Linked DNA regions of Homo sapiens: regions 1 and 3 are each linked to region 2. Evidence: fine-mapped expression QTL. A gene starts in region 2. Each other region holds a variant in brackets. All regions are shown on one strand. Distances are between the middles of the regions.

Evidence for each region.
Region 1: its variant is fine-mapped to the expression of LIMA1 in whole blood (TOPMed, PIP 0.92).
Region 3: its variant is fine-mapped to the expression of LIMA1 in blood mononuclear cells (TOPMed, PIP 0.97).

The regions. Positions count from the first base shown.
Region 1 is chr12:50,171,924-50,174,773 of GRCh38, forward strand. No RefSeq gene overlaps it. Among named protein-coding and RNA genes, the nearest start is that of CERS5, 6.0 kb to the left of the region's middle. The variant A/C (reference allele first, on the strand shown) is at 1,294.
Region 2 is chr12:50,281,975-50,284,824 of GRCh38, forward strand. LIMA1 (LIM domain and actin binding 1) reads right to left here and starts at 1,546. Exons shown (of 11, transcript NM_016357.5): 1 at 1,446-1,546. It overlaps LOC107984505 (a long non-coding RNA gene), which reads left to right and starts at 1,647. Exons shown (of 2, transcript XR_001749144.2): 1 at 1,647-1,908. RefSeq lists a silencer at 1,457-1,766.
Region 3 is chr12:50,146,735-50,149,234 of GRCh38, forward strand. The region is part of intron 1 of CERS5 (ceramide synthase 5); the gene reads right to left. The region is part of intron 1 of LOC124902931 (a long non-coding RNA gene); the gene reads left to right. Among named protein-coding and RNA genes, the nearest start is that of CERS5, 19 kb to the right of the region's middle. The variant T/A (reference allele first, on the strand shown) is at 1,216.

The DNA of each region.
Region 1 (2,850 bases), 110 kb before region 2:
CCATCCAGAGAGATTCTGCTTTCATGAGTTTGGGGGTAGGATCTATGAATTTGCATTTCCCATTTCTAACAAACTCATAGGTGATGCCACTGCTGCTGTTCTGTGAACCACTGCCTGAAGCCACTTCCATCCAAACCCAGGAATAGCTTCATGGTAACTACACTATATTAAGATACAGTTTTAAAGGGCTGGGCAGGGTGGCTCGCGCCTGTAATCCCAGCACTTTGGGAGGCTGAGGCAGGCGGATCACCTGAGGTCAGGAGTTCAAGACCAGCCTGGTCAACATGGCAAAAATCCACCTGTACAAAAATATAAAAATTAGCTGGGCATGGTGGCAGGTGCCTGTAGTTCCAGCTACTCGGGAGGCTAAGGCAGGAGAATCGCTTGAACCCGGGAGACGGAGGTTGCAGTGACCCGATTGTGCCACTGCACTCCAGCCTGGGCAACAAATGGAGACTCCATCTCAAAAAAAAAAAAAAAAAAAAAAAGAAAAGATATATTTTAAAAGGAAGTAATAAACCCAGCCCCATGGGATTTTCAATCAGCATCTCAAGGAACAGAGGACATACTAACTTAGCATACAGGAACCACCAGTACACAATGATCTTGGTCTGAGACCCTATTCATGATTTTTTTTTTTTTTTTTTTTTGAGATGGAGTCTTGCTCTGTCACCCAGGCTGGAGTGCAGTGGCGCCATCTCAGCTCACTGCAACCTCTGCCTCCCGGGTTCAAGCAATTCTCCTGCCTCAGCCTCCCAAGTAGCTGGGATTACAGGTGCACGCCACTACATCTGGCTAATTTTTGTATTTTTAGTAGAGACGGGGTTTCGCCGTGTTGGCCAGGCTGGTCTCCAACTCCTGACCTCAGGTGATCTGCCCACCTTGGCCTCCCAAAGTGCTGGGATTACAGGCATGAGCTACTGTGCCTGGCCCCTGTTCATGATTCTATCCCCAGAAAAATGAGCATGTACCAATTCCCAGTCTCTTGGCTGTTGGGAAACATTGCTAATGAAATATGTAATGCAAAGCAAATTTACTTTCACCTTGCCCAAGAGTGATCCAGCAAGTCACTGGAACCAAGCTGGCCTTGTAGCAGTCATGAGCAGAGCCTCCTTAACCATCATAAGTCCCAAGCTGGCCCCTTTTTCTGCTTTACCAACAGAAAAGCTGTCATCACCCTATAGTCACCAGTGATATACCAGGTCCAAACAAGGTAGCCTTCATTTAGAGAGCTAAAAGAACAAATGATTAATGCTTTTTCTGTTTGGCTGCTTTTGTTTTCTAAGAATGTTC[A/C]GTGTTATCTGGTCATTCTTTTGGCTAGGACATCCTTTCTTTATATTGACTCTGGAGCTATTCCTTGTTCCTACTCTGTGTACCCATGATACGTCTATATCTTAGCCCTTGAAAGGCATAGAAAAGAGTTTTTTTGTTTTTTTTTTTAGATGGAGTCTCACTCTGTTGCCTAGGCTGGAGTGCAGTGGTGCAATCTCGGCTCACTGCAGCCTCCACATCCTGGGTTCAAGTGATTCTCCTGCCTCAGCCTCCTGAGTAGCTGGGACTATAGGCACGTACCACCATGCCCAGCTAATTTTTGTATTTTTAGTAGAGATGGGGTTTCACCATGCTGACCAGGCTGGCCTTGAACTCCTGAGCTTGTGATCCACCTACCTCAGCCTCCCAAAGTGCTGGGATTACAGGTGTGAGCCACCGCACCCAGTCAAAAAGAATTCTTCTGAGGGTAATCTCAGTCCCCAAGGGGTGGCCCACTCAACTGATATCCACAGGTACTTAAACTTTTTTGTATAAAGTCAGTGCATAATGTGAGTACCATGTGGATGGATTATAGTAAAACGCAAGTCACAGAAGTTCAAGCCAGGATTGGATATTTTATATCAGTGGGAGCTTTTGGATTAACGTGAATATGGATTTTTTTTTTTTTTTTTTTGAGATGGAGTTTTGCTCTTGTTGCCCAGGCTGGAGTGCAATGGCATGATCTTGGCTCACCGCAACCTTTGCCTTCCAGGTTCAAGCGATTCTCCTGCCTCAGCCTCTCTAGTACCTGGGATTACAGGCACCTGCCACCATGCCCGGCTAATTTTGTATTTTTAGTAGAGACGCGGTTTCTCCATGTTGGTCACGCTGGTCTGGAACTCCCAACCTCAGGTTATCCTCCCGCCTCTGCCTCCCAAAGTGCTGGAATTACAGGCATGAGCCACCACACCCGGCTTTTTATTTTTTTGAGACGGAGTTTCGTCGTTGTTGCGCAGGCTGGAGTGCTATGGTGTGATGTCCGCTCACTGCAACCTCTGCCTCCCGGGTTCAAGCGATTCTCCTGCCTCACCCTCCTGAGTAGCTTGGATTACAGGCATGTGCCACCACGCCCGGCTAATTTTGTATTTTTAGTAGAGATGGGTTTTCTCCATGTTGGCCAGGCTGGTCTCCAACTCCTGACCTCAGGTGATCCGCCCGCCTCGGCCTCCCAAAGTGCTGGGATTACAGGCATGAGCCACTGCGCCCGGTCTGAACATGGATCTTTAAATGACTCAGTGGGGGCAAGAGCAGAAAGTAGTATCCTACCAACCACTCAGAAAACCAGGCAAGACTCTAGAAAACACAGGGATCCTGGAAAATGTAACAGATGACTCAAAAAGCATGCCTTAACTCTCCAAGGAAATCCACATTTCAACCCTACCAATTAAAAAGAAAGCCTGAACAATTGGAACAGTTGCCTCTACAGGCAAGGATATCAATCAATCAAAAATGCATCTGCCCACTTGGTGTGAACAGTGATTTTTTTTTTTGAGACGAAGTCTAGCTCTGTCGCCCAGGCTGGAGTGCGGTGGCGCGATC
Region 2 (2,850 bases):
ATCTACAGTAGGACTGACATGAAAGGCACTCAATATTTTGTCCAAAGAATGAAATAAGTTCCTAAACTAATTACCTAGTACATTATATGTTGTTCTATCAATGCAAAACAAGAAAACATATATGAACACACACTTTTTTTTGCCTTCTTTCACGCCAACTCTATAATTTTTTGAAGATCTATCTAAAACGTGATCATCCTGCACCCAGGTTATACCTCTACAGGAACTTAGAACATGTTGTTAGGGGTCATGTTCTTTTGTGTCTACATCATACCTCAGAAGAAAGGATTGGTGTTATTTCATGGCTCCTGAAATATTTAGCATTTGTGAATAGTATTGGTAACCAAGCAGATAAAAGGTACTGTGTTAAACCATTTAAATCAAGAGCAAAAGAAAGAATACTTAATGCAAAAGAAAACCTCTCCCCAAAATGGGCATTGCCTTAAAAACTGATAACTCCCTAATTACCTTTGACTAACCTGAAAAGTCAAGTCAATTGAACCATCTGGATTAGGCAGATCTGGATTAGGCAGACTTATCTTTTATTTTTATTTATTTATTTATTTTTTTGTAGAGACAAGGGTCTCGCTAAGTTGCCTTGGCTGGTCTCAAACACCTGGGCTCAAGCGATCCTCCCGCCTCAGTTTCCCAAAGTGTTGGGATTATAGGCGTGAGCCACTGCGCCCGTCCAAGGCAGACTTTTGAAAGCTGGAATTAGGTGCAAGACAATAGTAGTTCAAATATCTCTCACCAGGATCAGCTAAACCGTTCTTGCAAGCATCAGTAAGGAGGCTAGGAAGGGTGCCAGATGGTTCGTTCCTAGCAGCTACAACTTCAAGCTTTAGTATGTGTAGCCAGGGGTGTACAATTACCTTACATTAACACCAACATATGTCGGGGGCAAGTGCCAGCGATATATACACGATAGCGATTCGGGGATGACACATCGGCTGCAAGGACTGCTATATTCTCAACATTCCTCAAAAGGGTGTAAGTGTCTTAAACAGAGTTCAGCTGGCGTAATGGAAGGGAGAAAAAATCGAAAAGAGAGGGAATGGCTGAAAATGAAGGAAAAAGAACAGTTGAATATTACAGTATTTCCCTGGAAGGAGGGTATTTGGAGTTTTAATGAATTGTCACCTTCCTCCACCACACCAGAAAGTATACAGTTAGAATGCAGTGTTCTCGGTGGGAGAGGACGGGGTATTTGCAGCTCCCGCCCTTGGGCAGCAAAGGCTCAGCCCGACATAAGCACTCCCCACCCAGCGCAGGCCCCAGAAGTGAGGAAAGAACGGAGGATCAGCGTCCCTCGACCCCTTATCTCGAGGGGGAGGGACTCACACTCCTTGCACTCCCCCCGCCCCAAAAGTCGAAGGAGAAAGAGGGTGTGGAGAGAAGCCGGGGTCTTCCCGCACTCTCCGGTTGTGGAGAGAGAAGGCCCTTACCTGGCTAAAAGCCGCCTTTCCTCTGCGCTGCTACCAGCCCTGTCACAGGTCCCGGCGCTCTACCTAGCGCACCTGTCGCGACCAAGCTGCTAACACCTACTGCTCCTGCGGCCCCGCCCCGGACCCCGCCCACCGCCGCGGGGGCGCGCACGCCAGACAGCCTCCCGTGCGGCCTCGGGCTGAGCGTGCGCGCCACCGGCTACGTGCCCAGCGCTCGCGTCTGCTCCAGTCGCTCTGGCGGTGCGGGGCGCTGGCGACGGGACAGGGTTTTTGCTGCCCGGGGCCTAGTCTACCTCGGCACGCTTTTCTCTGAAGGAGACACGCACTTGCACGACGTGGGCCTCTGTGCAGCTCTACTTTGTCCTTAACTCCTCTGACTCAACGTTATCGCAGTTTGACTCTGGAGCCACTCAGGTTTTTCCTAAGCTCAACTCTAGCCAGCTAGGTTCCTGGTGCTTTGGGGGTAAGTTGTGTGCAGGGAGGGTGTTTTACAGGAGGCTGTGTGGTGTAGTGGAAAAAGCTGAATTAAGTACATTAATCCTGAAAACGGTTTGACAAGGGCAGATGACGTCCAAGTTCTCCAACAGCTGTTTTTACTCCTCCATTCAGAATAGGAGCTGTGCTAATGGTTTGGAGACCGTCAATTGGCCTAGCACTTGGCCATCCTGCCCCCAAATTCTTGTCCCAGTTCCGTGCCAGCTGCATGATGCCTTTTGATAGTATCCTTCTTTCCTGTACCTCAAGCATAGTAGGGTTTCAGACCACAAGTTTTCTGAAGCTTTTCGGAATTCATGCAGCTTGATGCGTTATTAGTAGGGGCTGCTCGTGGGAAAACGCTTGTAATTACACTTCCTCAAGAAGTTAATGAAAATGTGTGAGAAGAGAGATTTCCAACAGGTGATGAATATGCCAGCCAGTTATTCCCTTCTTCCTTCAAATATCCAGCCTAGACTGATTTCTGGATAGGTATTGTAGAAATAAAAATTTCAGACAAAACAAACTTAGATTTTGAATCGGACAACAGTCAGAACCAAAAGAGGCTCAGACACCCCTGCTCTAGCTGCCCAGGCATCAAACTTTATAGGCTGAACACGAAAGTAAAGAAATTTGATTGGCTACAGCTAAGCGTTTGCCTTATTTGGGTATGGTCACATGGGAGGTCCCTAATTATATAACCACTTGGCTGGTTGTCTGTTTGTGATTGGTTGAAACTCCATTCAAAATCAGGTACAAGGGGCCGGGCGCGGTGGCTCACACCTGTAATCCCAGCACTTTGGGAGGCTGAGGCAGGCGGATCCCCTGAGGTTAGGAGTTCGAGACCAGCCTAGCCAACATGGCGAAGCACCGTCTCCACTAAAAATACAAAAATTAGCCGGACGTGGTGGTAAGTGCCTGTAATCCCAGC
Region 3 (2,500 bases), 140 kb before region 2:
TACTCGGGAGACTGAGGCGGGAGAATGGCATGAACCCGGGAGGCGGAGCTTGCAGTGAGCCGAGATCGCGCCACTGCACTCCAGCCTGGGCGACAAAGTGAGACTCCGTCTCAAAAAAAAAAAAAAAAAAAGAACATTTGACAAATACTTGTTGATTGTTTATTTTGTGCTACAGAATGAAGCTTTATTATATTTTCCAGATGTGATTGGAAAATAATCTTTTCTAATTTGTGATAAAAATTAAATATATAGATTTAGTTATACACAGTTAATGAATTACCTTACTGAAGAAAGTGAAATTATTTGAAATTATAGCTTTTGAGAAAGTATTAATTCTACATCATACAAAAGGTTGGTATTTGGTATAACTTATAAAACAGGTATCTAGGCCAGGCGCGGTGGCTCATGCCTGTAATCCCAGCACTTTGGGAGGCTGAGGCGGGCGGATCACGAGGTCAGGAGTTCGAGACCAGCCTATCCAACATGGTGAAACCCCATCTCTACTAAAAATACAAAAAGTTAGACAGGCGTGGTGGTGTGTGCCTGTAACCCCAGCTACTCAGGAGGCTGAAGCAGGAGAATTGCTTTTACCCAGGAGGCGGAAATTACAATGAGCTGAGATCACGCCATTGCACTCTCTCTGGCCTGGGTAACAGAGCGAGACTCCATCTCCAAAAAAAAAAAAAAAAAAAATAGGTACCTAGGGTGGTCAATTTCCAGAGCCTGGCATTCATCATTTCTGCTACATCAGCATTTCTCAAAGTGTGGTTTAGAGACCCCTGGGGGATCCAGAGACCCTTTCAGTAGGTCTACAAGGTCAAAACTATCTTCAGAATAATTCTATAATTTCATAAAAATCTATTCTCTCTCATGAGAGTACAGTGGAACTTTCCATAAGTTACATGACATATAACAACAGACTGAATGCAGACGCTGACATGAGACTACAGCTGCCAGATATTTTCAAAAATGTTAAAATGCTACTCTTCTCACAGTTTTTTGTTTTGGAAAATAGTTATTTTTCATAAAACGTAATGAGTTCATTGTTATTTATTTATATTGAGACAGGGTCTCACTCTGCCACCCAGGCTGGAGTGCAGTGGTGTGATCACTGCTCACTGCAGCCTTGACTTCCTAAGCTCAAGTGATCCTCCCACCTCAGCCTCTCAAGTAGCTGGGACTACAGGTGTTGGCCATGCCCAGCTAATTAAAAAA[T/A]TTTTTTTTTTGTAGAGACAGGGTTTCACCATGTTTCCCAGGCCATTGCTATTTTTAAATGAATAAATATGGGCTGGGCACGGTGGCTAATGCCTGTTATCCTAGCACTTTGGGAGACTGAGACAGGTGGATCACTTGAGCCCAGGAGTTTGAGACCAGCCTGGGAAACGTGGTGAAACCCTGTCTCTCCCCAAAACACAAAAGTTAGACAGGTGTGGTAGCTCATGCCTGTGGTCCCAGCAACTTGGGAGGTTGAGGTGGGAGGATCACTTGAGCCTGGGAGGTCGAGGCTGCAGTGGGCTGTGATTGCGCCACTGCACTTCAGCCTGTGTGATAGAGCCAGATCCTGTCTCAAAAATAAATAGGCTGTATGCGGTGGCTCATGCCTGTAATCCCAGCACTTCGGGAGTCTGAGGTGGGCAGACTGCTTGAGCTCAGGAGTTCAAGACCAGGCTGGCCAACATGGTGAAACCCCATCTCTACCAAAAAATACAAAAATTAGCCAGGCATGGCGGCACATACCTGTAGTCCCAGCTGCTCAGGAGGCTGAGGTGAGAGGATCTCTTGAACTCGGGAGACAGAGGTTGCAGTGAGCTGAGATCTCACCACTGCACTCCAGTCTGGGCGACAAAGCAGACTCTGTCTCAATAATAAATAAATAAATAGGCCGGGCGTGGTGACTCAGACTTGTAATACCGGCACTTTGGGAGGTTGAGGCAGGCTGATCACTTGAGGTCAGGAGTTTGAAACCAGCCTGGCCAACATGGCGAAATGCCATCTTCTACTAAAAATACAACAACAAAAAATTAGCCGGGCATGGTCGTGCACACCTGTATTCCCAACTACTCAGGTGGCTAAGGCAGGAGAATTGCTTGAACCCGGGAAGCGAAGGTTGCAGTGAGCCAAGATTGCGCTACTGCACTCCAGTTGGGGTGACGGAGCGAGACTCCATCTCAAAAAAAAAAAAAAAAAAAAAAAATATATATATATATATATATGTGTGTGTGTGTGTGTGTGTGTGCGTGTAGACATTTTATACATGTATAAATACATGTAGAAAACATGTACATTTTCCCCATTTTTTTTCTAAAACAGTAGACATTGATAGGTACTATCCACATAAACAAAAACTCTTTGGGATCCTTGAAAATTTTTTAAGATTGTAAAGGAGTCCTGAGATCATAGTTTGAAAACTGCTGTGCTAGATGATACTGACAAATTATACTTTTAGTGTGGCTTTCTGTCTTCTCCAGGATCAATCCACATTTTAAAATAATTTGTCAGA